Homo sapiens: one gene and its partner. The protein of the gene in region 2 purifies or fractionates together with the protein of the main gene of each other region. This does not show direct contact. Each region holds a gene or a part of one and is shown on either strand. Other genes may lie near its edges.

Region 1 (3,926 bases), on a different chromosome or scaffold from region 2:
CCCAGGGAGCAGAATCTGTTCATGGTCCCACTTTGCCCAGCTAAGAACTGAAACAGCATGAGGTCCATGGGTTCCAGCTCAGCTCTGCCACTTCATAGGATGGAACCTTGGTCACGTCACTTCTCCAAGCTTTAATTCCTCACCTCTGAAATGGGGATTTCAGAACTGTGACCCTGGATGGCCAAAGGATCCAATGAGATCATGTATGGATCATATATATGGGGCATTTTTTGAACTGAAGCACTAACCAAATGATATTATTAAAACGACGTGAGGTTTGAAGATGCTGCAGAGGGAGGAAGCCTCAGGGGAGGAGGCTGTGAAGGAACAAGAACCCACATTCACAAGAGGCTGCCTGGCCATCCCACAGACCTGACTGATCCTGAGGCCACCAGCAGGAAATGCCCACAGCAGGTCAGACCACCCCAAGCTCACTGGCTTGAGAGACCGCCTGTCCACGTTGCTTCGTGTGTGTGTGCCTGTGCATGTACCTGGCAGCCCGGTATCACAGCAATTTGCCTGGCTGCTCTGGGGGCACATTTGGCAGGAGGGCAGTGTGCGGTGCTGAGGGAGAACCTCCACTTCAGGCCAGGTCACAGACTCTCAAAGAAGAGCCTCCTTGCCGGGATCCCCTGCGGGGACATCTCGAGTGCCCAGCTCCTCTGGGGCCCTTACCTTGTACTTGGCCGCAAGCAGCTCTGTGGCCTGCTGTTCCCGCCGCAGGTCCTCCAGCATCTTCTCCTTCTCCTCCAGCAGCTTCTGCTTCTCCTCGCTCACCAGGCTGCGGTCATCCTGGATGGCTGCCTTCTCCTCCTCCAGCCGCTCCTTCTGTTCCTGCAGGTAATTCTCCATGTTCTTCTCCAAGGCTGACTCCAGGATGGGCTGGGGCGGGCGGTGGTTGTTGTTGTTGTCATCCTCCTCTTCTGCCACCCAGGCCTCAATCACTGGGCCCTCAGGGTACCCAGGCGGGGCGGACACGGCCTTCTTCCTGCGGCTGCTCTTCCTCCGGGGCCGCTTCCCCAGCATCCCCCTCTTCTCCAGCTGGGCCTTCAGGCGGGCAATCTCCTCTTGGAATTCCCGCAGCAGTGTGTCCTTGGGGTCCTCGTTCACCCGGGGCTTGTTCTTGATGTTCTTGGCTCGGTTGGCAAAGCGCAAGGTGGAGAGGCTCTCATCGTAGCTGTGAGAAGCTGGCCCCAGTGTGGCTACCATGATGGTCTTGGCATTCCCCCCCAGGGAGTCCTGGAGCAGCCGGGTCAGCTTGGAGTCCCGGTAGGGAATGTGGGTGCTCCTGTTGCCCGCCAGGGCAGCAATCACGTTGCCCAGGGCAGATAATGAGAGGTTGATTTTGGAGGCTTCCTTAGGCCTCTCTCCACCAGCACCACCACCACTGCCTCCACCGCCACCACCGCCACCCGAGGATGGTGTGGCTGCCCCTCCCGCTGTGTTGGGGCCTGCCTTGTTCTGCCTCTCGCTGCCAGCCAGGTCCACGAGGTTGAGCTTGCCCACTCGGATGTGGTCCTGGCCATCAGAGCCACGTTCGCTGCACTCCACAGTGATGATGAAGATGGCATGGGAGCGGGAGCTGACCTCATTCATGTGGGTGCTGCCCACAGCCCGGGTCTGGTTCCCCAGGTTCATCACATGCTCAATCTCCTTGACATTCTTGGTGACGAAGGAGGAGAGGTCCTTGATGTAGACGCCAGTCTCGGGGTTCTCTTTCAGCTCTAGCCTCTTGCCCGGCTCCTTGGAGAGCAGGTCTCGAATCTCTTCCTGGTAGATCTCCAAATAGGAGGCCCGGACCAGGTACTGTTGGTTCTGGGAGCGGGAGATGTGGGTGAAGATGTGCTCAAAGGCATTCGGGATGACCCCGCGCAGCTCGGGCTCCACCCAGGTCCCCTGCATGGTATAGGTCTTGCCAGTGCCCGTCTGGCCATAGGCAAACACCGTGCCATTGAAACCCTGGAGCACGGAGTCTATCAGGGGCCTCACGGTTTCGTCATACAGGTCGGCCTGCTTGGAGCTGGCATCATACACGGCGTCAAAGGTGAAGGTCTTGGGCAGCTCCCCCGGGGCGGCGCGGGGGTTCCGCAGGGTCACCTGGCCCAGTTTCACGTCCATGGTCAGGATCTGCTCGTGACCAGCAGCCTCCTCCTTCCTGCTGAGGGGGCGGCACCGGGCCACCACCTTGAGGGCCTCGCTGGCCTTGGTCTTACTGGCCATCTTGCTGCTCTGACCTTCCTGCCCCCGAGCCCCTCCGCAGCCTGGGCGGTCCTGCTATCCTGCTCGCTAGGTCGGGATCAGCGGGGCCGGCCCAGCCCCCAGGCGCAGCTCTTCAATCCGCATGCAGCCTCCTAGGGTGGGGACGCTGGGAGGTGGCCCCAACGCTGCTGCAGTCCGGGCCTCCACCGCTCTCCGGTCCTCTCTGCACCGGCTGGGAGGTGAATTAGGCAGAATCCCCCAGTCGCCGCGGGAGCAGCGCCTGCCGAGCAGCCGTGCCCGGAGCCCGCCCCATGCAGGAGCAGAGGGAGCGCTGCCGTAAACAGCTTCGGCAACAATGAGATAAAGGAAGAGGAAAATGGGATGGGGGTGGGCGGCGAGCTGTCTTCTCCTCCTTCCTCTAGGGATCCATAGCGTGGGCTGCCGGTCGTGGGCGGCCGGGGGTCCCGGGCCTCCCGAGGGCAGAGGCTCACCTGGAGTCCTCCCCCCAAGCTGGGGGATCATTCATTGCAGCCAGCGCGGCTGCTGCTGCCTCTGCCTCCGCCTTCCCCGCCGCCGCCACTGGAGAATGAGAGAGAAAAACAGAAGGGGATGGGGCGGAGCAGCGGCAGCGAGAGTGATGTTGCCGCCGCGCTGCGGCCCCAGCTAAGCCTCCCGACTGGGGTGGGGCAGGGGGCGGGGCCGCGGGGCGGGAGGCGCGAGCCCGGAGCGGCCCGGGTGCGGGGGACAGGGGCGCATCGCCGTCTCTGCACCCCCGCCGACCGCTCCGGGATGACAGGCTCCGGTGCCGACCCAGGTCCTGCGCCCACCAGTCGGGTGCAGCGCAGCCACCGCCCGCCGTCACCCCACCGAGCCCGAGCATGCCGGGAATTGTAGTCCTGCCTTTGTTAACCGGGTTCTGGCAGGTTGCTAATGCCTTTCCCGGTCCCCCAGTCCGGGAGGCGCCTCCCTCATCCGCATGCCACCCCTTGAGTGACTGCTGAGCTTGCACCACCTATGCCTGGTCCCTCCGAGCCACCATCCTCGGACACCCCCCTGCTCCTGCCTTTCTGCCTGCAAATGGGTGCGCGTCACCCCTCCCCGTCAGGGTGTCGCCAGGCCTCCGGGAACCGAACTCCTAAATGTTCCTTGACTCTGTCCTTTCCTCCCCCTGTCCCGGTCTACTTCTGGCCTTCCTCTTCTCTCTGCTGGAGCCCACCTTCCAGCTGATTCTCTCGCACCTTATGTCCGCACAAGCACCCGGGAGCCCCCTCGCTCCTCCTCCACCGCCTTCCTTGTGTGAAAGCCTCTCCATCTTCCGCCTTCGCAGCCTCACCGCCACTACTCCTCTATAGAAAAATCTGTGTTCCAGACAGCCATTTCTTCAGTTATCCAGCGCCTGCTGAGCCCCAGGCCCCATTCTAGGATCTGGGTCCTTCCTGTCCTCAAGCAGTGCACATTCCCGGAACCGTGTTTTGTTTCTTTAACTGGCTTTGCTGTGCAGCATCTTTGTGCTTTTGCCCAGAGGCCTGGTCACCCTTCGGCACTTAGTGCCCTGCCACTTGGGCAGTTCAAGCACCTCCTCCTCCACGAAGCCTTCCCTTAGCAATTTTTTTTTTTCTATAGTGAAAGAGGCACAGAATTTACCTAAGACAAAACCTGGATTGAAGTTCCAGTTCTGATGGCCATCCAATGGAGTGGCTTTGAGCAGTCACTCCCCTTGCTCCAGC
Region 2 (2,340 bases):
ATTACAGGCATAAGCCACCACACTCAGCCATGAATGATATTTTTTTTTTGAGACAGAGTCTCGCTCTGTCACCCAGGCTGGAGTGCAGTGCCACAATCTCGGCTCACTGCAAGCTCTGCCTCCTGGGTTCACGCCATTCTCCTGCCTCAGCCTCCCAAGTAGCTGGGACTACAGGCGCACGCGGCCACGCCCGGCTAATTTTTTGTATTTTTAGTAGAGACGGGGTTTCACCGTGTTAGCCAGGATGGTCTCGATCTCCTGACCTTGTGATCCGCCTGCCTCAGCCTCCCAAAGTGCCGGGATTACAGGCATGAGACACGGTGCCTGGCCCATGAATGATATTTTAATGTTTTCTAACTGTGCAATGTTATTGAAGAAATATTCTTCTCTAGCTTCAAATAAGCTAGTATCTTTGAGGTATCAAAAAATACCTCAAAGGTATTGAGGTATCAATGTATTGAGGTATCAGTGCTCACAAGAAAACAAAAAGGAAACAGAAGTTTTCATTAGTGAAATAAGTCAGTTTATTTTATTTCTAACAAGGCCTTTTTCTCCTATAATTAAGACAAACCATTTTACACTTTATAATAACATAACTTAGTTTTTAGTATTTTCAAAAGGGAAAGATTTTGGGTGGGGGGAATTTAGGAAGTCAAATATTTTAGAAGGAGTAACTATAGAAGTTACTTTTTCAATCTTAATATATTAACAGGCTTGTTACCAGGTACATTACCCAGCATTTTTTCTTACAAGGAATCTATCAAGTACTAGCCAACAAATAGTCTACATTTAGAAACTGAGGGTAGAAATGTCTGTATTTTAATAGGAAACAAGCATCTAAAATACAAATCACATGTCTTTAACAAGGCAATTTACATAATTAGGTGTAAGTTTTTAATTAACTTTATGTTCCTTAGGATCCTAGCAAACACTCAGTTGACTGTATCTCAAGTTCAAACTGCACTCACCTGGCTATAAAGGTAAACATCACAATGGAATTGGGCCTGTCTGACTAGGGAAAAAGATCACTTCAATATTGCACATTTCCTTTCTTTAAAAACAAGGATTAAGTCAGGGCCATCTTGGTTCTGAATCTCTCCATTTTTGTTGGGAGAAGACTAACCATCTCTTTACTAAGTTCTAGCTCAACTTCTATTTCCTGGGCGGCCTCAGGATGCTTTTCACAGTAATCAACAATAAATTTGTAATGTTCCAATGATGTTGCCAAATTTTCCAGCTCTTTCTTGGGATCTGCAGTAATGATTTTGCCATAGAGACGGGCAACTCGAAACTTAGCTAACATGGCAGGGCGAAGAACATCTTCCCCTATATGCTCAGGGAATACTTTATTTGGGTCTCTCAGGGAGTCTAAGAAGAGCTGGTAGTACTTCAGTGCTGACTTATTAAGATTATTTATTTTTTTTACAATGTGTGAATCAGGATCCCTTAGCCTGTCAGCAATGGCAACCTTCAAATCCATCATATCATAGTAAGCATGTGCAATTTCAAACTGGATCTGTCTGTTGACCAACAGATAATACTGTGGATTCAGGTCTACAGTTAGGGGCTCTAGCATGGCTATTCTGCGTTTATGCATCTTGCACCGTCTCTCCATGTCAGTTTCAAAGAATGCAAGCACCTTAAACAGAGCACTGTGGTCTTGGACAACTTCAATATGGTCAGTGACATAACCATCAATCTGAAAGAACTCTTTTGCCTCAAAGACATAGTGCTGACCCAATAAGAAAAGTTCTCTGGCTTCTTCAAAATCTAAAGGTCTCAAGTAGCTCACTTTCTCTTCTACTGCAGAGATGGCATCACACAGTTCACCGGTTCCAAACTGCACAGCTTTTTTCCGAATGCTTTCCTCCTCATCTAGTTCTTTTTTCCTTAAAGCTCTAAGTTCAGACTGTTTATCAAGATCAAGCTCTCCTATGTTGTCCTGAAGGAAAAAAAAATAAATTATGGTTAAGTAGGACACTCACCTCCTGCTGTTAAATAATATTAAAGCAAACTTCAGAGTTTTTTAGAAGAGAAGTCTCTTACTTTCCAGCCTGGTTTAGAAGGGTATCATAATCTTAAACACCTTTGAAAACTTCTTTCTTTCTTCCGATTATATTAAAAACTCAAGAAATGTGGAAAAAAAAGTATTTAAATAGACAAGCTGCTTACATATCATTTATTCTGAGGAACTGAAATTTATTTACAGTTACTCCTTCCAATAAGATAAATGCTACATGTAAAAGTACTTTGAGAATTGTGAAACATTATATATATGTGATACATTACTCCCAGCACTTTGGGAGGCCAAGGCGGACAGATCACGAGGTCAGGAGTTGA

The links. The genes of interacting proteins can lie anywhere in the genome.
Region 1: the proteins of KIFBP (region 2) and KIF3C purify together in Homo sapiens (affinity purification with mass spectrometry; 2 studies listed by BioGRID and IntAct, with this or other methods). This does not show direct contact.

Annotation. Positions count from the first base shown.
Region 1 is NC_000002.12:25,979,698-25,983,623, forward strand, and holds the start of KIF3C (kinesin-like protein KIF3C), read right to left. Parts: upstream 2,801-3,926; 5' UTR 2,221-2,800; coding exon 676-2,220; intron 1-675.
Region 2 is NC_000010.11:69,015,143-69,017,482, reverse strand, and holds the end of KIFBP (KIF-binding protein), read right to left. Parts: intron 1,943-2,340; coding exon 1,067-1,942; 3' UTR 501-1,066; downstream 1-500. UniProt on the Homo sapiens protein: Activator of KIF1B plus-end-directed microtubule motor activity. Required for organization of axonal microtubules, and axonal outgrowth and maintenance during peripheral and central nervous system development.